Regions from separate parts of the Homo sapiens genome. Here regions 2 and 3 are each linked to region 1. Evidence: fine-mapped expression QTL. A gene starts in region 1. Each other region holds a variant in brackets. All regions are shown on one strand. Distances are between the middles of the regions. Region 1 holds the start of PLEKHB2 (pleckstrin homology domain containing B2). Region 2 has its middle 12 kb from the start of RAB6D. Region 3 overlaps ARHGEF4 (Rho guanine nucleotide exchange factor 4).

Evidence for each region. PIP is the estimated chance that this variant, and not a neighbour inherited with it, causes the effect. A credible set is the group of variants that fine-mapping cannot tell apart.
Region 2: its variant is the best candidate, but not a certain one, in a credible set for the expression of PLEKHB2 in whole blood (INTERVAL, PIP 0.69).
Region 3: its variant is the best candidate, but not a certain one, in a credible set for the expression of PLEKHB2 in sun-exposed skin (GTEx, PIP 0.56).

What each region holds. Positions count from the first base shown.
Region 1 is chr2:131,101,961-131,110,147 of GRCh38, forward strand. It overlaps PLEKHB2 (pleckstrin homology domain containing B2), which reads left to right and starts at 3,376. Exons shown (of 8, transcript NM_001100623.2): 1 at 3,376-3,438. RefSeq lists an enhancer at 3,100-3,229.
Region 2 is chr2:131,372,406-131,380,592 of GRCh38, forward strand. It overlaps the pseudogene MTND4P21, the pseudogene MTND4LP28, the pseudogene MTND3P18 and the pseudogene MTCO3P18. Among named protein-coding and RNA genes, the nearest start is that of RAB6D, 12 kb to the left of the region's middle. The variant G/A (reference allele first, on the strand shown) is at 4,166.
Region 3 is chr2:130,977,358-130,985,544 of GRCh38, forward strand. All of the region lies in intron 4 of ARHGEF4 (Rho guanine nucleotide exchange factor 4), which reads left to right. Among named protein-coding and RNA genes, the nearest start is that of SMIM39, 54 kb to the right of the region's middle. The variant A/AGAATTGCC (reference allele first, on the strand shown) is at 4,628.

The sequences.
Region 1 (8,187 bases):
ACCCAGCCTTCTTTCCCCTGGCCTCTTCTCAATAAACATGAACAGGAAGCCAGTTTTTCTTTTCTTTCTTTTTTTTTTTTTTTTTTCTGAGTTGGAGTTTCACTCAGTCGCCCAGGCTGGAGTGCAGTGGCACAATCTCAGCTCACTGCAACCTCCGCCTCCTGGGTTCAAGCTATTCTCCTGCCTCAGCCTCCCAAGTAGCTGGGATTACAGGTGCCCGCCACCACGCCTGGCTAATTATTTTGTATTTTTAGTAGAGATGGGGTTTCACCACGTTGGCCAGGCTGGTCTCGAACTCTGGACCTCGAGCGATCTGCATGCCTCGACCTCCCAAAGTGCTAGGATTACAGGCGTGAGCCACCACGCCCAGCCCAGAAAGCCAGTTTTACTGAATCAGAAAACTTGTTATGGGACACTCCCTCCTCCAGGTACTGGAACGCCTACTTAAACTGAACTTTATTAAAATATTACTTTTTTTTTGTCTGGGTGCAGTGGCTTACGCCTGTAATCCCAGCATTTTGGGAGGCCGAGGCAGGTGGATCACGAGGTCGGGAGTTTGAGACCAGCCTGGCCAACATGATGAAACCCTGTCTCTACTAAAAATACAAAATAAATAGCTGGGTGTGGGGGCGCACACCTGTATTCCCAGCTACTCAGGAGGCTGAGGCAGAATAATTGCTTGAACCCAGGAGGCGGAGGTTGCAGTGAGCCTAGATGGTGCCACTGTCCACCAGCCTGGGTGACAGTGAGACTCCATCTCAAAAAAAAAATTATTATTATTTTGAGGCAGGGTCTCATTCTTTTGCTCAACCTGGAGTGCAGTGACACAATCATGGCTCACTGCACCCTTGACCTCCCGGATTCTAGTGAAGCTTCCCTCTCAGCCTCTCAAGTAGCTGGGACTACAGATGCATGCCACCATGCCAGTCTAATTTTTTTATTTTTATTTTTTTGTAGAGAAAGTGTCCCACTGTGTTGCCCAAGCTGGTCTTGAACTCCTGGGCTCAAGTAATTCTCCTGTCTTGGCCTCCCAAAGTGCTGGGATTATAGACGTGAGCCATCACACCCAGCCTTAAATATTACTTTTTCCTGTTGTTGAAGTGATACATATTCATGAAAGAAAACTTGGAAAATGCAGAAAAGTAGAAAAAAGAAATGTCATCCACAGTCCCATCACTCAGAGAGAATGTGTTAGTGTATTTTTGGATACTCCAAACTCAGACCCTGAAAGGTCCCTAAGACTGACCCTGAAGGTGGTCAGGGCTAGTATAGCCTTAATGAGGGCTGGTCAAGAAGCTTGTTGATGTCAGGCAATTTACCCGAGCTCATCCAGAAGCAGCGGAACCAGGAAGAACCCCATGTCACACAAATCTCTGAACTCTTGTGTTGACTAAGCTATAATATCTTGCAAAAGATGGGATTGCAGGCATCATAGGACTCCCTACCCTGCATTTTTTAAATTTTCCCCAGAGAGGAGCTGGGTTAAGACAGGGGCCCTGATTGGCAGAGTTTGGGGTTTTGAAGACCAATAATAATAGGGCTCTTCCAATATTTTTTTTAAGAGTTTTTCCCTTTTAAATTTAGATATAATTTATACACAGAAAAATGTACAAATCTTTTTTTTTTTTTTTTTTTTTTTTAGATGGAGTCTCTCTGTCGCCTAGGCTGGAGTGCAGTGGCGTGATCTCGGCTCAGTGCAACGTCTGCCTCCCGGGTTCACACCATTTTCCTGCCTCAGCCTCCCAAGTAGCTGGGACTACCGGCGCCCGCCACCACGCCTGGCTAATTTTTGTATTTTTAGTCTCTGAGTATCTGGGATTACAAGCGCACCACCAGGCCTGACTAATTTTTTTTTGTATTTTTAGTATGGACGGTGTTTCACCACGTTGGTCAGGCTGGTCTCAAACTCCTGACCTCGTGATCTGCCTGCCTCGGCCTCCCAAAGTGCTGGGATTACAGGCGTGAGCCACTGTGCCCGGCCAAAAATGTACAAATGTTAAGTATAGTGTTCAGCTTGATAAAGTTTTACTTACACACACGTACCCACCACTCAGATCAATGTATAGAACATTTTCAGCACCCTAGGAGTGGGGTTGCCAGGAGGCTCTCTCAAGCCTCTTTCCAGGCAGTACCCCTACACCACCCCCCAACCCCTGCTAGGCTGGAACGCAGTGGCTTGATTGCAGGTCAAACTTCTGGGCTCAAGCAATCCTCCTGCCTCTGGCTCGCAAAGCTCTGGGATTACTGGCATGAACCATCTCACCTGGCTAACATTTATTTTCCCTCTATTGTCTTCAGAAAACCCCCAACTTTTCATCTGGAATAATTTTAGACTACAAAAAAGTTATAAAGCTAGTATACCCTTCACACAATTTCTCCTAATGTTAACATCTTACATAACCATTATACATTTCTTATAACTAAAAACTACTATTACCTAAACTTAAATTTTATTTTAAGTTTATAGCCTAGCTACATCACCATGTTGCATATGACAGTGTCTCAGTTTTTTTCTTGCTTTTGATTACCTTGATAGTTTGAGGAGTACTGGTGAGGTGTTTTGAGGAATATCCCACAAACGAGATTTGTCTGATGTTTATCTTTCAGTTAGACTGAGGTCACGGTTTTTTTTTTAATCACATGTCAAGGGCAAGTGCAGTGACTAATCACTTTGATTTTCACGTGGAGTGGCTCTACAGCCCTCTTTCCACACTGTACTCTTGGAAAGGTCGTCCCCAGGCATAGGCCACACTCAGGGTGGGTGTGGACGGATTACCACACCCCTCTGGATGAGGTATTATTAGAATTCCTCTGCAAGGAAGATTATCCCTTCTCCCTCATTTATTTAATCACGTATTTATAGCAGCACGGGCTCTGGGCTGTTTTATACTTTAGGTTATAACTTAATGCAATGTACTTTATATTGCTGCTCAAATTGTCCCAGGCGCGGCCCCCGGAAGCTCTCTGGGTAGATCCCTGCGCCCTTGGACGCCCGGTCCTTCAGTTTTTTGAGCACCTCAAGCTTCTGGCCTACAAAACGCTCCCGGCTCAGCTGGAGCTTTCTGCGCCCGGGTCCTAGAGTCGCCCATTTCTCTAAGGCGCCTTGGCCCTATTTTTAGAGAGCGGTATTTAGAAACCAAGATTAGGGTGCTAACAATTTTTTTTTAAATTTTTATATTTTTAAGACAGGATCTCACTTTGTAACACTTCCTTTTAGTGGAAGCGCCGACCTCCTGGGAGACCCACGCCCCCTGCCGCCTTCCGTCCCGTTTCTCAGAAAACCACCCAGACACCCCGCCCCACCGGCCGGGGCCCGCCGCGCATGCGCGCCGAGGCGTGACGTCAGAACGGCGGCCAGGACGCCGGACGTGCGGCAGTTGCAGGCGAGCAGGCGAGGAATCGCCGTGGCGTCTTGGTGTTCTCCACGCTGGTTCGCAGGTGAGTGTCCCTGTTTAGTCCGGACGACCCTAGCTCCTTTCCCCTCTGGCCCGCGCCTCTCCAGATTCTCCTCTAGAGCTGCCCAGCCTCGCGCCCCTCTGAGGGGACCCCGCACCGCGCCACCTCCGCGGTGTCCCCACTCCCTAATTTTCCCTGAGGCTCCTGGCCACGGGTCCGCCCACCTCCCTGGACCACCCTGACCTTCCCCAGGTCCGCCCTCTCAGTCTCCCCTAGAGCAGCCCATTCGAGAGCCCTCCCAGTGGGCCCCCCCGGCCTCTCAGACCCCTTCCCATCGCTTCCCCGGCGTCCGCCTCCGGTCCTTTCCCCGAGCCCCTCCTCTCCGGCCCCGCGGACCCTCCTCCTTTCCCGACTGCAGCCTCCGCCTTGCATCCTTTCTGGCCGCTCGGGAGTGTCCCACATGTCTGACTGCCGGGACCTGCTGCGGCCCGCCGCCTGGGGTCTCCCGGCGTCCGATCTCTACCCCTGCTGCTCCCTCTGCTCCAGGGAACTTGCCTTCTCAGTTCTCCTGCCCAGAGGTCTCCCCTCCTTAAGTCCCGGGGGGCGTTGAGGCTTTACCCTCGCGGTGCGGTCCGCCCCCGCTGCATTTCACCTGCTCTTGGCCTTGCAATGTCTTTAGTCATAAGTGCTTGGTGTACCTTATCTTACATATCTCTCTTCATGTTTGATTCTGTTACTCAACTAGATTGAAAACTCCGGAGGTCAGGGATTTGCATAGGGATCCCCGCCCCGCCACCCCGCTTAAATCTCAAATGTAGACCGGTTCAGGGTGGGTGGAGGAAAGGAATGAGGTGGAGTGGTCACTGTAAAAAATTAAAGGAACATGGTTAATTCAAAATAATACTGACTCATGGTCTCAGCCTTTAAATTTTTAGTGCTTAGGAAAGGGTGGAACCACCACCGAGGGAGGAGGGCTGACAGCTGAGGGGAGGAATATTCCAAGGTCTTCTGTGGCCTTTGGTATGAACCAGTACCAATTCAGGAAGTGACTTGTCCGAAGTCACATGAGGAATTAGGACCCGAGCTGGCACTGGTAACTGCCTGTTTAGTGTGGCCCTCAGTATTTGTTGACTAAACTAATGACCAAAACATGTATGCACAGACACAGCTGTGCGTCTGTGCCCATGCAGTGGGTGTGTCTGCCTAAGGACCTGTGGGGGTGTGGGAATACTGCTGTGACGGTTCAATTGTGGTGCTCAGGAGTGTTCCCTAGGTTCAGAAAGTTCCTAACCCTGGGCTGGTTGGCTGGATATTGATAGGACTGGAGCTTGTCTGGGCTTCCTTTGTGCCTGGTGTTTACTCTCTGTGGTGGTGATCTCTTTACTCGACTCTTCCCTATTCGTACTGATCTCCCTGAGGACAGGAATCAAACTGTGTTGCAGGGTTTCCCTAATAAACAGCATAGTGTTTGGCACTTTGTAGGTGGTCAGTAAATGCTTATTGAAGAAGGCTGCAGAAAAGAACTCAGAACCTGACAGCGGTTCTTTGCTAGCATTATATTTTAAAGGCGGTGGTACATTCTGTAAGTAAATTTCCTGCTATTCTCAAGGACTGAGTTGATTAAATGTGTACAGCAGTGGTATAGAGAGGACAGATACTCTTGTGGTGTTACTCCTTGGGAAGGTGGAGGTTTCTCTCAGCTCTTTCTGAAAGCTTTGCTTATGCTTTTCAGCTTGCATTAATATTTTTGTTTCTCCTTTCCTCTGCCTGCCTTCTTACTGTTTGTCTAAAGAAATTAAAGAATTACCTTATTAATAACAGTAACTACCAAAAACTGCAAAACACACTGTTAAAAATGCTCCCAAAGTGGGGGCTAATTGACCCAGTTGTTTTGTTAGTTATATATTTGCTTCCACAGTGGATCATGGAAACGGAAAGTTGGACTTCCTTGCCTCTTTGCTTTCTTTGCCTGTCTGCCCTTTGATGGTGCTTGTATTAGGCTTGTTGTTAAGAAGTGGTTCCCAACTGGAAATGGCCAATGCCACGTGGGAACTGACCTCTACATGTTGATGGGTCACCCAACCTTCTTTCCCTTCTGTTTCAGAATGTACCTGTGACATCTCTTTGACTCTCCACTGTTGCCCTTGAAGAACAGAGATGAGTTTTCTTCCTTTTTCATAAGGAAGCCACTTTTATAGCGAAAGAGAGCTGGAGAACTGGGATATCATGAGGAGTTGTAGACAGTTAAACCTGAATTCTAGCTTTTGGAACAAAATAGTAATGTAATTGTAGCAGTTCTCACTTTTTTATTTTTTATTTTTTTGAGACGGAGTTTCACTCCTGTTGCTTAGGCTGGAGTGCGATGGCGCAGTCTCGGCTCACTGCAACCTCCGCTTCCCGGGTTCAAGGGAGTCCCCTGCCTCTGCCCCCCAAATAGCTGGGATTACAGGCGTGCGCCACCATGCTCGGCTAATTTTTTGTATTTTTAATAGAGATGGGGTTTCACTATGTTGGTCAGGCTGGTCTCGAACTCCTGACCTCAGGTGATCCGCCTGCCTTGGCCTCCCAAAGTGTTGGGATTATAGGCGTGAGCCAACGCGCCTGGCCAATTCTCACTTTTGGACCATCTACTACAGGGCTGTTTGGACATACCTCCTTTAATTGTCACAGTAACCCCATGACGTAATTGGTTGTGCCTGGTCATACAGGTAAGAAAACTGAGGCTTAGAGAGGTTTAGAATTTTGCTGAAGGTCATACTAGTGAGTAGAAGGCAAAGTAGGCTTCAGGCTTAGAACTGTCAGATTCCAAAGGCAGTATTTTTTGTCCATCTGTTGTCTGTTTCGATTCAATGCTTTCAAAGAGATACAAATTCAAATTTAAAATAATTTAAATTGTTGAATATGGCTTACATTTTAAAGCTTTGCATAGGTTTTATTGGCATAAAAATAATGTTCTTTTGCAGCTAGTTTGCTGGTGTTTTATTCTCTAGAGACCAACAGCTAGGGCTTAGTGTTTATCTGATGAGTTTTAGTTTATGCATTCAGTTTTGCTCCAGGATATAAATAGTGAAATGTTGAATTAAGTTATGGAGTGGTGTGAAATTCAGCATGCTAAGGCAATCAAACAGAAGTCTTCTGAGCCATTTGAGAAGCAGCTTGATGTCCTTGTTCTTAGAACAGGGCTGTCCAATCTTTAGACTTTCTTGGGCCACATTGGAAGAAGGCCATACATAAAATACACTAACCCTAATGATAGCTGATGCACTAAAAAATAAAATTGCAAAAAAATCTCATAACGTTTTAAGAAAGTTTACAAATTTGTGTTGGGCTGCATTCAAAGCTGACCTGGGCTGGGGCCATGAGTTGGACAAGCTTGTTCTAGAATATTTTCGGCAAATTTTGGTAAGGGGGAAAATAAGTAATAGTAATAATAGTAGTAAATAGTAATAATTGCTGTCAAAGCAGCTACCATTTATCGAGTTCTAGTAACTGTGAGGCACCATGCCAACTACTTACATATTATTTCACCCAATTTTCCGAACATCCTGTCAAGTAGGTGGTGGGAATTTTCGTTTTATAGATCAGGCTTGGAAACGTGACTTGTCCGATTGAGTCAGGATCTGAACATAGGTCTTTTAACTCTAAAGCTTATACCCAAACACTGGGTTCTGTGAAATTTCAAAAGCATATGATAGGCTGACTGCAGTGGCTCATACCTGTAATCCCAGAACTTTGGGAGGCTGAGATGGAAGAATCCCTTGAGCCCAGGAGTTCGAGACCAGCTTGGGCAACATAGTGAAACCTCGTCTCTACAAAAACAAAACAAAATGTGATCAAAATCATACTTCATGATTTTTGGTTTCTAAAGATACTCTCTAAATTTCTCTCCCCAATTTAAAAACGAAAGCAGAGCACTGTTGGAAGGTTCAAATAGGTAGATTAATTTAGGTTGGTTTTTTTGTTTTGGTATAGTTGAAGATAATTCAGGTTATTGTTTACATGTTTACATTTATCAAAATAATACATGTACATAGATTGAAAGACCAAATAGGCTGAGCGTGGTGGCTCAAGCTTTTGGAGGCCAGCACTTTTGGAGGCTGAGGCGGGTGGATCCCCTGAGGTCAGGAGTTTGAGACCAGCCTGACCAACGTGGTAAAATCCCGTCTGTACTAAAAGTACAAAAATCAGCTGTGCGTGGTGGTGGGCGCCTGTAATCCCAGCTACTTGGGAGGCTGAGGCAGGAGAATCGCTTGAACCTGGAAGGCGATGGGTGCAGTGAGCCAAGATCGCGCCACTATACTCCAGCCTGGGCAACAAGAGCGAAACTCTGTCTCAAAACAAACAAACAAAAAAAACAACCAAATAGTGCTTTAAACCTTAGAATAAAAAAAAATATATCAATCTCTTGTCCACCCCCTTTTTAAACTATAGACAACTATTTTCACCTTTTTTTGGCACTTTTTAAAATAGTATTTTGGCTGGGTGTGGTGGCTCACACCTGTAATTCCAGCACTTTGGGATGCCAAGGCAAGTGGATCATGAGGTCAGGAGATCGAGACCATCCTGGCTGACACGGTGAAACCCTGTCTCTACTAAAAATACAAAAAAATTACCTGGGTGTGGTGGCGGTTGCCTGTAGTCCCAGCTATTCGGGAGGCTGAGGCAGGAGAATGGCATGAACCTGGGAGGTGGAGGTTGCAGAGAGCTGAGATCGCGCCACTGCCCTCCAGCCTGGGTGACAGAGTGAGACTCCGTCTCAAAAAAAAAAAATAGTATTTTATCTTTGTGGAT
Region 2 (8,187 bases), 270 kb after region 1:
TAAGTAAGTGTTTGCTGGTGTGTTGTGACAAGGATGTGAAGGAAATAAAGGGCTGTAATTAATATATTACATCCTATAAGCATAATGGTAATATTTGATCAGGAGAGTGAAGCCACTCTTACGAGGAGTTCACCTATTAGATTAGTGGAGGGGGGTAAGGCAGGGTTAGTAAGATTTGCTATAAGCAAAAGGGTATTAGTGGAAATAATATTTGAAGCCCTTGAGAGAGTAATATGATTCGGCTGTGGGTTCGCTTGTAGTTTGAATTTGCTAGGCAGAAAAGTAGGGACGAAGTAAGTCCGTGGGCAATTATGAGGATAATAGCAAGATAAAGCTTCAGGGGATTTGAATAAGGATAGCCATAATAACAAGTGCCATATGGCTTACGGAGGAATATGCAATAAGTGACTTTAGATCAGTTTGTCATAGACAGATAGAGCTTCTCATAACTATACCTCATAAGGATAACATGAGGAAGGGATAGACTATATATTCTGTCAGGGGGCTGAGGATAAGGGTTAAGTCGTATTATGCCATAGCCGCCTAGTTTTAGGAGTCCTGCTGCAAGTACTATTGAACTGGCAATAGGAGTTTCTACATGGGCTTTAGGAAGTCATAGGTGAAGTCCGTATAGGGGTATTTTTAGCATAAAAGCCATTATACACACCATATAAAGTTGTTGGATCAGGAAATTAATAGTTGTTGGGTATTAAATGTTATTATGCTCAGTGAGCCTAGGATATTTTGGGTGTAAGTAAGTATAATAAGTAGGGGGAGAGATCCTACTAGTGTATAAAGTAAGAAATATGTGCTTGCATTGAGGCATTCTAGTTGGTTGCCCCAGCGGGTAATAATAATTAAGGTGGGGATAAGTGTAGTTTCAAAGAGAATATAAAATATAATTAGTTCTGTGGCTGTAAATGCTGTAATTAGAAAAACCTGTAGGGAGATCAATATGGAAATATAGAGCTTTTTCTGTGGGAGGGATTCACTGGAGAGGTGATACTGGCTTGCTGTAATTATAAGAGGTAATGGCCAGGCTGTTAAGATTAGAAGGGGTGATGTTAGGGGATCAGAGGAGAAAGTTGATGAGGAGTTGAATAGATTGTCGTTGAATTGATTAAAGAATAATAGGGCAATAAAGCTGATAATTAGGCTGTGAGTGGTTATATTCATCCAGAGTATAGGATTTTTAGAGAGTCATGTTATTGGTAGCAGTGTGATTGTTAGAATGATAACTTTTAGCTTTGAAGTAAATTTAGGTTATGCACATAGTTTAAGTCATATGTGTTGGAAATTGAAACTAGTAAGGCAAGGCCCACTGCGGCTTTGCCGGCAGCAAATACTAGTAGGGTGATGGGTACTACGGTTGCTAGGGTAAAATGTATATTTAAAGTTATAAGGAGGGGTGGAGCCAAGATGGCCAAATAGGAACAGCTCCGGTCTACAGCTCCCAGCATGAGCGATGCAGAAGACGGGTGATTTCTGCATTTTCATCTGAGCTTTGAAGAGAGCAGTGGTTCTCCCAGCATGCAGCTGGAGATCTGAGAACGGGCAGACTGCCTCCTCAAGTGGGTCCCTGACCCCTGACCCCCGAGCAGCCTAACTGGGAGGCACCCCCAAGTAGGGGCAGACTGACACCTCACACGGCCAGGTACTTCTCTGAGACAAAACTTCCAGAGGAACGATCAGACAGCAGCATTTGCAGTTCATGAAAATCTGCTGTTCTGCAGCCACTGCTGCGGGTACCCAGGCAAACAGGGTCTGGAGTGGACCTCTAGCAAACTCCAACAGACCTGCAGCTGAGGGTCCTATCTGTTAGAAGGAAAACTAACAAACAGAAAGGACATCCACACCAAAAACCCATCTGTACATCACCATCATCAAAGACCAAAAGTAGATAAAACCACAAAGATGGGGAAAAAACAGAGCAGAAAAACTGCAAACTCTAAAAAGCAGAGCGCCTCTCCTCCTCCAAAGGAATGCAGTTCCTCACCAGCAACGGAACAAAGCTGGACGGAGAAGGACTTTGACGAGTTAAGAGAAGAAGGCTTCAGATGATCAAACTACTCTGAGCTACAGGAGGAAATTCAAACCAAAGGCAAAGAAGTTAAAAACTTTGAAAAAAATTTAGACAAATGTATAACTAGAATAACCAATGCACAGAAGTCCTTAAAGGAGCTGATGGAGCTGAAAGCCAAGGATCGAGAAATACGTGAAGAATGCAGAAGCCTCAGGAGCCAATGCAATCAACTGGAATAAAGGGTATCAGTGATGGAAGATGAAATGAATGAAATGAAGTGAAAAGGGAAGTTTAGAGAAAAAGAATAAAAAGAAATGAACAAAGCCTCCAAGAAATATGGGACTATGTGAAAAGACCAAATCTATGTCTGATTGGTGTACCTGAAAGTGACGGGGAGAACAGAACCAAGTTGGAAAACACTCTACAAGATATTATCCAGGAGAACTTCCCCAATCTAGCAAGGCAGGCCAACATTCAAATTCAGGAAATACAGAGAATGCCACAAAGATACTCCTCGAGAAGAGCAACTCCAAGACACATAATTGTCAGATTCACCAAAGTTGAAATGAAGGAAAAAACGTTAAGGGCAGCCAGAGAGAAAGGTCGGGTTACCCACAAAGGGAAGCCCATCAGACTAACAGCAGATCTCTTGGCAGAAACTCTACAAGCCAGAAGAGAGTGGGGGCCAATATTCAACATCCTTAAAGAAAAGAATTTTCAACCCAGAATTTCCTATCCAGCCAAACTAAGCTTCATAAGTGAAGGAGAAATAAAATACTTTACAGACAAGCAAATGCTGAGAGATTTTGTCACCGCCAGGCTTGCCCTAAAAGAGCTCCTGAAGGAAGCACTAAACATGGAAAGGAACAACCGGTACCAGCCACTGCAAAATCATGCCAAATTGTAAAGACCATCCAGGCTAGGAAGAAACTGCATCAACTAACGAGCAAAATAACCAGCTAACATCATAATGACAGGATCAAATTCACACATAACAATATTAACTTTAAATGTAAATGGTCTACATGCTCCAATTAAAAGACACAGACTGGCAAATTGGATAAAGACTCAAGACCCATCAGTGTGCTGTATTCAGGAAACCCATCTCACGTGCAGAGACACACATAGGCTCAAAATAAAGGGATGGAGGAAGATCTACCAAGCAAATGGAAAACAAAAAAAGGCAGGGGTTGCAATCCTACTCTTTGATAAAACAGAGTTTAAACCAGCAAAGATCAAAAGAGACAAAGAAGGCCATTACATAATGGTAAAGGGATCAATTCAACAAGAAGAGCTAACTATCGTAAATATATATGCACCCAATACAGGAGCACCCAGATTCATAAAGCAAGTCCTGAGTGACCTACAAAGAGACTTAGACTCCCACACAATAATAATGGGAGACTTTAACACCCCACTGTCAACATTAGACAGATCAACGAGACAGAAAGTTAACAAGGATACCCAGGAATTGAACTCAGCTCTGCACCAAGCGGACCTAGTAGACATCTATAGAACTCTCCACCCCAAATCAACAGAATCTACATTTTTTCAGCACCACACCACACCTATTCCAAAATTGATCACATAGTTGGAAGTAAAGCCCTCCTCAGCAAATGTAAAAGAACAGAAATTATAACAAACTATCTCTCAGACCACAGTGCAATCAAACTAGAACTCAGGATTAAGAAACTCACTCAAAACCACTCAACTATATGGAAACTGAACAACCTGCTCCTGAATGACTACTGGGTACATAACAAAATGAAGGCAGAAATAAAGATGTTCTTTGAAACCAATGAGAACAAAGACACAACATACCAGAATCTCTGGGACACATTCAAAGCAGTGTGTAGAGGGAAATTTATGGCACTAAATGCCCACAAGAGAAAGCAGGAAAGATCCAAAATTGACACCCTAACATCACAATTAAAAGAACTAGAAAAGCAAGAGCAAACACATTCAAAAGCTAGCAGAAGGCAAGAAATAACTAAAATCAGAGCAGAACTGAAGGAAATAGAGACACAAAAAACCCTTCAAAAAATTAATGAATCCAGGATCTGGTTTTTTGAAAGGATCAACAAAATTGATAGACCGCTAGCAAGACTAATAAAGAAGAAAAGTGAGAAGAATCAAATAGAC[G/A]CAATAAAAAATGATAAAGGGGATATCACCACCAATCCCACAGAAATACAAACTACCATCAGAGAATATTACAAACACCTCTACGCAAATAAACTAGAAAATCTAGAAGAAATGGATAAATTCCTCGACACATACATCCTCCCAAGACTAAACCAGGAAGAAGTTGAATCTCTGAATAGATCAATAATAGGCTCTGAAATTGTGGCAATAATCAATAGCTTACCAACCAAAAAAAGTCCAGGACCAGATGGATTCACAGCCGAATTCTACCAGAGGTACAACGAGGAGCTGGTACCATTCCTTCTGAAACTATTCCAATCAATAGAAAAAGGAATCCTCCCTAACTCATTTTATGAGGCCAGCATCATCCTGATACCAAAGCTGGGCAGAGACATAACCAAAAAAGGGAATTTTAGACCAATATCCTTGATGAACATTGATGCAAAAATCCTCAATAAAATACTGGCAAACTGAATCCAGCAGCACATCAAAAAGCTTATCCACCATGATCAAGTGGGCTTCATCCCTGGGATGCAAGGCTGGTTCAACATATGCAAATCAATAAATGTAATCCAGCATATAAACAGAACCAAAGACAAAAACCACATGATTATCTCAATAGATGCAGAAAAGGCCTTTGACAAAATTCAACAACCCTTCATGCTAAAAACTCTCAATAAATTAGGTATTGATGGGACGTATCTCAAAATACTAAGAGCTACCTATGACAAACCCACAGCCAATATCACACTGAATGGGCAAAAACTGGTAGCATTCTCTTTGAAAACTGGCATGAGACAGGGATGCCCTCTCTCACCACTCCTATTCAACATAGTGTTGGAAGTTCTGGCCAGGGCAATCAGGCAGGAGAAGGAAATAAAGGGTATTCAATTAGGAAAAGAGGAAGTCAAATTGTCCCTGTTTGCAGATGACATGATTGTATATCTAGAAAACCCCATTGTCTCAGCCCAAAACCTCCTTAAGCTGATAAGCAACTTCAGCAAAGTCTCAGGATACAAAATCAATGTACAAAAATCACAAGCATTCTTATACACCAATAACAGACAAACAGAGAGCCAAATCATGAGTGAACTCCCATTCACAATTGCTTCAAAGAGAATAAAATACCTAGGAATCCAACTTACAAGGGCTGTGAAGGACCTCTTCAAGGAGAACTACAAACCACTGCTCAGTGAAATAAAAGAGGATACAAAGAAATGGAAGAACATTCCATGCTCATGGGTAGGAAGAATCAATATCGTGAAAATGGCCATACTGCCCAAGGTCATTTATAGATTCAATGCCATCCCCATCAAGCTACCAATGACTTTATTCACAGAATTGGAAAAAACTACTTTAAAGTTCATATGAAACCAAAAAAGAGCCCGCATCGCCAAGTCAATCCTGAACCAAAAGAACAAAGCCAGAGGCATCATGCTACGTGACTTCAAACTATACTACAAGGCTACAGTAACCAAAACAGCATGGTACTGGTACCAAAACAGAGATATAGATAAATGGAACAGAACAGAGCCCTCAGAAATAACACCACACATCTACAACCATCTGATCTTTGACAAACCTGGGAAAAACAAGCAATGGGGAAAGGATTCCCTATTTAATAAATGGTGCTGGGAAAACTGGCTAGCCATATGTAGAAAGCTGAAACTGGATCTCTTCCTTACACCTTATACAAAAATTAATTCAAGATGGATTAAAGACTTAAACGTTAGACCTAAAACCATAAAAACCCTGAAACCCAAGAAAACATAGGCATTACCATTCAGGACATAGGCATGGGCAAGGACTTCATGTCTAAAACACCAAAAGCAATGGCAAGAAAAGCCAAAATTGACAAATGGGATGTAATTAAACTAAAGAGCTTCTGCACAGCAAAAGAAACTACCATCAGAGTGAACAGGCAACCTACAAAATGGGAGAAAATTTTCGCAACCCACTCATCTGACAAAGGGCTGATATCCAGAATCTACAATGAACTCAAACAAATTTACAAGAAAAAAACAAACAAGCCCATGAAAAAGTGGGCGAAGGACATGAACAGACACTTCTCAAAAGAAGACATCTATGCAGCCAAAAAACACATGAAAAAATGCTCACCATCACTGGCCATCAGAGAAATGCAAATCAAAACCACAATGAGATACCATCTCACACCAATTAGAATGGCGATCATTAAAAAGTCAGGAAACAACAGGTGCTGGAGAGGATGTGGAGAAATAGGAACACTTTTACACTGTTGGTGGGACTGTAAACCCATTCAACCATTGTGGAAGTCAGTGTGGTGATTCCTCAGGGATCTAGAACTAGAAATACCATTTGACCCAGCCATCCCATTACTGGGTATATACCCAAAGGACAATAAATCATGCTGCTATAAAGACACATGCACACGTATGTTTATTGAGGCACCATTCACAATAGCAAAGACTTGGAGCCAACCCAAATGTCCAACAATGATAGACTGGATTAAGAAAATGTGGCACATATACACCATGGAATACTATGCATCCATAAAAAATGATGAGTTCATGTCCTTTGTAGGGACATGGATGAAATTGGAAATCATCATTCTCAGAAACTATCACAAGGACAAAAAACCAAACACCGCATGTTCTCTCTCATAGGTGGGAATTGAACGATGAGAACACATGGACACAAGAAGGGGAACATCACACTCTGGGGTCTGTTGTGGGGTGGGGGGAGGGGGGAGGGATAGCATTAGGAGATATACCTAATGCTAAATGACGAGTTAATGGGTGCAGCACACCAGCATGGCACATGTATACATATGTAACTAACCTGCACATTGTGCACATGTACCCTAAAACTTAAAGTATAATAATAATAAAATAAATAAATAAATAAGTAAATAAAGTTATAAGGGTATTTATGATGAATAATGATAATATTATTCCTTCTAGGCATAGTAGGAAAAAAGTTGTATTTATATATAGCAATGCTGGCAGCTAGGACTGTGAGAGAAAGGAGTAGAAGAACTGCTGATATTAAGTGGGATTGATAGATTAATAACCCCAGAAGTGATATGGTATATGTGAATATAATATTTATGTAAACAGGGGGCATTTGGTAAACATGTTCTATCATAACTAACGAGTCAAAATCATTTATTTTGGCTTAAACTACTTACCAATTCAGTTCAGTCTAATCCTTTTTGAGTTCATTCATAAGGTAACCCTAGGATTAAAATGATAACTAGCATAAGGGATGTACTAATTATTAGTGTCAGGTTGTTTGAAGGGCTCATGGTAAGGGTAGCAGTAGGGTGATTTCTAAGTCAAATAGGAGGAATGTGATGGCTACTAGAAATGATTTTATGGAGAAAGGAATGCGGGTGGAGGATAACGAGTCAAATCCTCATTCGTAGGGGCTGGATTTTTCTGTATAAATATTAAGTTGTGGGAGCCAGAATGTAATAGCTATAAGTGACAGGGCTAGTAGGGTGTTGATTACTAGGGCTAGTGTTAGGTTAATTACTCTTTTTCAGATACTATCGAAACTAATTGATTGGAAGTCAATGGTACTGTTTATACTAAAAGAGTAAGACCCTCATCAGTAGATAGAAATATACAAGAATAGTCATACTACATCTACATAGTGTCAATATCAGGCGGTGGCTTCAAAGCCAAAATGATGGCTGGATGTAAAGTGGTATTTTAATTGGCGGAGAAGGCAGATAGTAAGGAAAGTTGATCCAATAATGATGTGAAGTCCATAAAAGCCTGTAGCTATAAAAAATGTTGGGCCATAAATTCCATCAGAAAAAGCAAAGGGAGCCTCTAAGTATTCTGAGACTTGTAGGAGGGTGAAGCAAATGCCTAAGATAATTGTGAAAAGTAGTGCTTGAATTACTTGTTTTTGATTATTTTCTATTAGGCTGTGATGGGCTCAAGTAATTGAAATGTGTTCAGGAGGGGTACTTCCAGGGGGTTGAGGGGAGAAATGCTTGTTGGAGATCAGTGTCCTCCTAATTCTGGAGCTGG
Region 3 (8,187 bases), 120 kb before region 1:
TGCCTATATTGTGTTGCGTATGTTGTGTGTGTTGTGTGATGTGTTTTTTGTGTATGGGGTGTGTTTGTGTTTTCTATGTGGTGTATGTTGCGTGTGTGTGTAGTGTTTATGTTGTGTGTGCTTTGTGTGTATAGTGGTTTTATGATGTGTATGTATGTTGTGCATGTGTGGTATACATTGTGTGTATGTTCTGGGTTTTGTGTGTTGGGCATGTTACATGTATGTTGTGTATGTGTGGTGCATATGCGTTGCATATGTATGGTGTGTGCTGTGTGTGTTTTGTGTTTTGCATGTGTCGTGTATGTATGGTGTGTGTGTGTGCGCTGTGTGCATTGTGCAAACGTGTTTTTTTTGCATCTTGTGCGTGTGTGGTGTTTCATGTGTATGTGTGTATGTTGTGTGAGTTGTGCATGCATGGTGAGTTGTGTATGTGTCACCAGGGGTTTGGTCTAGGTTCTGCTGCCCACCACACAGAAAGCCAATCACTGAGACAACAAGTATTGCCAAGGAAGAAGGCTTTAATCAGGTGCAGCAGCCAAGGAGGTGGGAGCTCAGGCTCAAATCCATCTCCCTGACCAACTAAAACTAGGGCTTTATGTAGGAGGGAAGAAATGTAACAGTGTGTGAGAAAATAGGGCCTAGGGAGGGGCAAGGAGGCATCTGATGTGGTGATCTGGTGAGTTTCACTCCTTTGACACTTCCTGAGATCCCTTTTCTGAGGAAGGAACTCATATCAAACAAATACAAGTTTCAAGCTTTAACAGCAGAAGGATCCATTTCTATGTTTATCCAAAAGCAACTGTCTATGGGACCCTCGGGCTGGTTTCAGTCCCCCCTTTCTATTTATCAGTTCCACAATCATGAGGAATCTCGTCATTGATCTTTCTGGCTGCTTCATGCTGAGGAGGGGTGTCGTGGGCAGCTCCATACCATGGCTGACCATGTAGCCACCCAGGAATCGAAGGTTAATCTAATATAGAGTTTTCTTCTGACATACAATATTTCTCCCTGGTCCACACTTCTGCCAAAGACAAATCACAGCAGGACCAACCTAGCTGCATAATAAGTGTCAGTCCCATATTCTTGGCCTGATTACTCACACAAAGTGCAACAAGAATCACTGTCCATATAGATTCCCAAGTTGGCTTTGCTGGAACATCTCACAAGACTATTTCAGTCAAAGCCCTGAGAAAATAACCAGTCCCTTCAATTGTGTCGCATTACAAAAGAAAACATGGTCTTTGTGCAAAGAATTACACATTGCCATGAATGAAGAATATTCACGAATAGTTTACAAATTCTGGAGAAATTAGGCAGAGAAATATGACTCAAATTCTGTTTACAAAAGTATACTCAATACACTTAAAGTATATTTCAAGGCTATAAATAGCTCCAAAAAAAAAAAAATTCTCCAGACTCTGAAAAACAAAACAAAAAGAATCAGCAATATTTCAAACAACAAAAGCCATAAAAAAAATTATTTCTGTCCTGCAGTAGTTCAGTCCATGCAGTCACCTCCTGCTCTGCTTCATATTGGGTTAGCAATCTTCAGGAACACATCAGCCTTTCAATTTGTGCAGTGGAAGTTCTCCCTCTAATCCAATGGCACAATCTCCAAAGTTATCAGAAACCTGCACTCACGAGTCCTTTTCAAGAACTCCTCCAAAGAAGTAAGCCTTGGACTGTAGCTAATTCTAAGCCAGTTTTTTTTGAGAAGGATCAAAGTAAAACATCAATTGTGGATGACAAAAGTCTTAAGACAGCCATAGTTAATGACACCGTTGACAGGAAAATTTGGTTATTTCTGTGGCATACAACAATTTAACGTGACAATCATAACTATTACTGACAACATATATTAAGGCATATCAGAATTTTAGGAATCTCATATAATCCTAGAACCCATGTTAGCAACACATCTATATAAATATAACTTGAAGGAAGCTAAACACCACCTCAGATTTGACAATGCTTCCTGCATAGTTCTAATATAACAAGCCTAATAATCCCAACCATGTCTCTCTTGAACTTCAGGGAACCTAATATCCAAAAAGTTTAGTTTGAGGACAAAAAGACTGAATTTAAAACTTGAAATTGGCCAGGCGTGATGGCTCATGCCTGTAATCCCAGCACTTTGGGAGGCCGAGGTGGGCAGATCACCTGAGGTCAGGAATTCAAGAGCAGCCTGGTCAACATGGTGAAACCCCATGTCTACTAAAACTACAAAAATTAGATGGGCTTGGTAGCGGGAGCCTGTAATCCCAGCTACTCGGGAGGCTGAGTCAGGAGAATGGCTTGAACCCAGGAGGTGGAGGTTGCAGTGAGCCAAGATTGTGCCGCTGCATTCCAGCCTCGGTGACAAAGCAAGACTCCATCTAAAAAAAAAAAAAAAAAAAAAACCTGAAATTTTGCTGTTAGAAAATCTGTCAGATTTCAAAGGTTTCAGACAGACACCCAATATCACAAAATAGGATCACAAGTTTCTATAAAATAGTCATTCAGGTAGCGAAAATTATAATATAAAATGTTTACGCTTTGATAGAGAGGAAACTTTCTCAAACAATAAGACCTAATACTTAACTATCATTCTCTCTAACATGTTACAAATTAAAACAATGTAATTGGTGTTTAGAAGTTACTGCCAGCAACACTTCAAACCACTGTATTAAAGTAGTTAGGTTACTCATCACATATGTCTAATTGCTAGTATTCTAGTAACATAACTGTAAACAAAAACATAAAAAACGTTGTAAGTCTGGATGGGCATGGTGGCTCATGCTTGTATCCCCAGCAATTTGGGATGCCGAGGCAGGTGGATCACTTGAGCTCAGGAGTTTGAGACCAGCTTGGCCAACATGGTGAAACCCCATCTCTACTAAAAATACAAAAATTAGCTGAGCATGGTGGTGGGTGCCTGTGGTCCCAGCTACTTGGGAGGCTGAGGCAGGAGAATCACTTGAGCCCAGTGGCAGAGGTTGCAGTGAGCCAAGATCATGCCATCCACCCTGTGTGACAGAGTATGACCATGTCTCAAAAAAAAAAAAAAATTATAAGTCCTATGCCAGACTTAGCAAAATAAGACTAACTAACATTTTTTCTTTATCATTAAAAAATGATAAATGCAAATATCAGTTTTGGAAATTTAGTATGAGAAGTAATCTTTCACTTAAATACTATACAACGAAACAGGGAGAAAGTAAGAATAAGCACACAGCAATTTCTTTTCAGCTATTTTGAAAACACATCAACACACATTTCTAAGATTGGTTTCTAGATACAGTACTGACGACTGGTTAGGCAACCTTCACCACTCAAATCTGTAAACCAGTGCAGCATGTGCACATAATTTGTTTTCAGGTACATACATGAAGGCCCATCAGTGATAAACAGCTTGAGATCACAAATCACCAGGAAGTCTCACCTTTTTTAAAATTACTAATTAATCCAAGTGAATGTCACTTTAAATTAGTTTGAGAGAAATTCTACTCAATATAATTTCCTTAAGGATAAGGCCAATCTTTCCTGAATATTAAAACCATGTACCCATATCACAGTTTTTCTTCACCACCTAAAGGAAAAGATCTGAAACCAACTCAAATTGTTGATTGAATTGAGTTACCTTGAATATAAACACCATTGAAACATTTCTGTTCTCACCTACTTTTGCCAAATTACAAAATTTGTAATATGCTATTTCTGTTCAGAACTTAAGTCTTTTATTATTTCATTTTTTTGTGGCTGGGAACCTTAAAACTCTCATAGCTCTGTAGATCATTAGAGGCAAGCAAATCCAACCAAATTTCAAATGGCTGTTGTGCTCCATCCATTCCTGAAGACCAAACAAAGATAGCCTGGGAATTCTAGATAAATAGAACAAATAATGACTTGCTAGAAATGCATAGGAAACAAAATAATTATTCACAGAACCAAATAAATGCCTTCTACTAAAAACTAAAAAACATCAGTTTTATATCTACGCATACACAAGAAAAACCCAAAGGAGAACAAACAGCAACAAATAAAAACTAGAAGTGAAAATAGGCCTGTAATCCCAGCACTTTGGGAGGCCAAGGCAGGCGGATCCCAAGGTCGGGGGATCGAGACCAGCTTGGCCAATATGGTGAAACCCCGTTTCTACAAAAAATACAAAAGTTAGCCAGGTGTGGTGGCAGGCGCCTGTAGTCCCAGCTACTCAGGAGGCTGAGGCAGGAAAATAGCTGGAACCTGGGAGGTGGAGGTTGCAGTGAGCAAGATTGCACCACTGCACTCCAGCCTGGGTGACAAAGCGAGACTCCATCTCAAAAAAAAAAAAAAAGAAAAAAAAGAAGTAAAAACAAACAGGAAACAGACCCCCCATTCTTTTCCCCACTCAGTTACCCTGGAGGCTGCAGTGTTACCCAGAGTCAAGAAAACCCCACATAATGAATATTTTATTCCTGATCACACAAGTCAGTATCCTTAAGTCCACCAATATTACCATACATCCTGTGCAATCAAGAAATTCATTCTAGGCACATGGCCAGTAAGTACTCTAGTGCCAGCACTATCCATGCAAAACAACAAACATAGTGTGAAGCAATACAAACATGTACACTAAATCTGGCTTCATGCTTAACTACAGTAAAAA[A/AGAATTGCC]GAATTGCCAAACTGCCAATACATTTTTTTTTGAGATGGAGTCCTACTCTGTCACCGAGGCTGGAGTGCAGTGGCATTGTGTTGGCTCACTGCAACCTCCATCTCCTGGGTTCAAGCAATTCCCCTGCCTCAGCCTCCCTAGTCGCTGGGATTACAGGCACCCACCACCACGCCCTGCTAGTTTTCATATTTTCAGTAGAGACAGGGTTTCACCATGTTGGCCAGGCTAATCTCGAACTCCTGACCTCAGGTGCCTCAGCCTCCCAAAGTGCTGGGATAACAGGCATGAGCCACCATGCCCGGCCTGCGTTTTTTTATAATATTTATTTTATTTTAATCAGGACTGAGAGCTTTAACTATGAAAATGTTAATTAGCCAAATTTCTCCAATTGTCTATCAGGTTTTAAAGAATGCTTTACTATCTAAACTTTTTCAACTTTCTATTTTGTCTGTATGTGCATGAAGATAGACACACAGAGAAACAGAAAAAAATTACATGTGACTTACACAGATTATCCATGACATGCCTGGGCTTTCTGTTCAGTCCCAGATTTTTTCTTCCTTCTTTTTTCGCCTCCTCCTCCTCCCCCTTCTCCTCCCCCTCCTCCTCCTTTCCCTCCTCCTCCTCCTTTCTTCTTTTCTTTCTTACCATTTTACTGTAGGCCAAAAGAATTTACCATACAAGATTCTTTCTCATACAAAATTAGCTTTTCTTTATAACCTTCCTTACCAAAAATACATCTTCATATATATAACTTTTTTCACATCTCTCTCCCTTACTTACTGATTCCTACTGCCTTGTTTCATAAATAATCTTTTTAAAGGTGTAATTTGAACTAACTTTTAGATAACTTCTGAATTAGACAAAATTACTGTTTTTCTAATACATCTTTTGGCACATTTATATACAGAATTACTATTAACTATAATTCTTATCCTTAGTAACCTTAAATTTTAGTGAAACCCTAAAAAGCAAGAAATCCTGAACTATCAGATATGAACATTTTATATAGTTAAGAACAGTTCCACAATTTTCAGAAACATATTTTCCTATATCACAAAGCTTTTTTAATTGGAAGCAACCTGCATATCTAATGAGCATCAAAAATAATTTCCAGATTTTAAATTACACAAAAAGTTTACCTAAAACATCCCATTTACATGTACTCAATTCTTTCATTTTTAGCAGTTTATCTAGATTACTTCTGAAAACTGAGAGATTAAACACCATCATTTAAAGTTAGTAATTTCCTTCTTAACAATTTTATAATCTGTGAATATCAGATGTTCACTGAAATAAGAACCTTAAAGTTAACTACATGGGCATTGTCACTAATAACTCAGAAGATTCAGCTGTTTTCATTAAACCAATAACAGTCTGACTTATCAAAAAATTTGCATGAAGATCATTTTGTTTTGGCCAGCTTTATAGTTTTATAACCTTCCATGCCAAACCCTGACATCTCAAAATATCTCCCAGAGACAAATATAAAAACCAGACAAAAATATATGCTGACAATTCTGAAGACATTCCTGTTTTCATTTTACCAACCATTTTAAAGCAAGCTAGTAAAGATTTACTTAAGTCACATGAACTTGAAAATAGCTTGGACTTAATTTACTTAATGTATGAGTGCTCTTTTATTTATTTTTATTTTATTTTATTTATTTAATTTTTTTTTTGAGATGGAGTCTTGCTCTGTTGCCCAGGCTGGAGTACAGTGGCGCCATCTCAGCTCACTGCAAGCTCCGCCTCCCGGGTTCATGCCATTCTCCTGCCTCAGCCGCCTGAATAGCTGGGACTACAGGCGTCCGCCACCACACCCGGCTAATTTTTTGTATTTTTAGTAGAGACGGGGTTTCACCATGTTAGCCAGGATGGTCTTGATCTCCTGACCTTGTGATCTGCCCGCTTCGGCCTCCCAAAGTGCTGGGATTACAGGCATGAGCCACAATGCCCGGCCTGAGTGCTCTTTTATTTATAAGCCAATTTGGTAGACACAACATATAACAATAAGTGTACATACAAATAAACACATATAGATATGCGTACACACACAAAGATCCAATAGCTTTTACCTTAGAGCTCTAGCAATGAGATAGCAATACAAACATACTGGTTTTACATGGTTACACTTCTTTTGCCCCAGTAGGTAATCTGGTGAAGGCTGTGAACCAAAATTTTGGGTAGTTTCCATAGCAGTTTGATTTTCAAAGGCCCAACCTCCCCAGACTCCAAAGAACATTGTGGCCAAACAGCACCAAAGGAGAGCACCACATACTAAGCAGGCTCAACCCTGCTTAGAACAGCAGCACAGAAACCTGGATACATGCAACTCCAACCCACTTTCCCATTTAACAGCAAACTCCACATTCCAAACGATATTGTGGCCAAACGGTATTGCAAAAGAATATCAAGTTTATGGCCAGGCGCAGTGGCTCACACCTGTAATCCCAGCACTTTGGGAGGCCAAGGTGGGTGGATCACCTGAGGTCAGGAGTTCAAGACCAGCCTGGCAAACATGGTGAAACCCTGTCTCTACTAAAAATACAAAAATTGCCGGGTGTAGTGGCTGCGCCTGTAATCCCAGCTACTCGGGAGGCTGAGGCAGGAGAATCGCTTGAACCCGGGAGGCAGAGGTTGCAGTGAGACAAGATTGTGCCACTGCACTCCAGCCTAGTTGACAGAGCAAGGCTCTGTCTTAAAAAAAAAAAAAAAAATCAAGTTTACCAAATTCTAATTTCCCATGACTATATCAGACACACACACACAATCGCCAGAACACAATCCAGTTGCTGCTGCAACAAACAAGCCCCAAGTGTCCAAACTGAAACAGTTGGGGTGCTTCCTTTCTCCATCGGTTAGGCTTTTGGTTTTTGCAAACAAAAATTCCTTAGGAATTTCCCAAATTGAGAGGAGCTGATCCTGCTGTCTGGTACCTACAAAAGACATGCACTTGCCCGCACACCACACAATTACAAACAAGCCCCCAAGAGTATCCATACTGAAACAACAGTCAGGGTGCTCCCCCATCAAGCTCTTTGCAGGGCTTGTTCAACCTGCAAATGGAAATTCCTTTAAAATTTTCCCAAACTGAGAGGAGCAGATCCTGCTATATGGGCCCAAAAAGGACATGCACCTCTTTGGATGTAGAGGTGCTTCTAGGAAGGGGCTTCTTCCAAGGCAATCAGGAATGCAGTCGGGGCCAGCTAAGGCAAAGCCAAAGAGAGATGGAAACTCGCTTCCAGCCAAAAGTGGGCAGGCAGCTTAGGAGGGCTTCTGAGACCCCAGGTCCAAGGCAGCGGAACCACAAACAACACATTCCTGGTCAGGGAACCAAAATCTGTTACCAAAACACCAGGGGTTTGGTGTAGGTTCTGCTGCTCACCACACAGAAAACCAATCACTGAGACAAGTATTGCTACAGAAAAAGGCTATAATCGGGTGCTGCAGCCGAGGAAATGGGAGCTCAGTCTCAAATCCATCTCCCTGACTGACTAAAACTAGGGGTTTATACAGCAGGGAAGAAAAGTAACAGTGTGTGGGAAAACAGGAACTA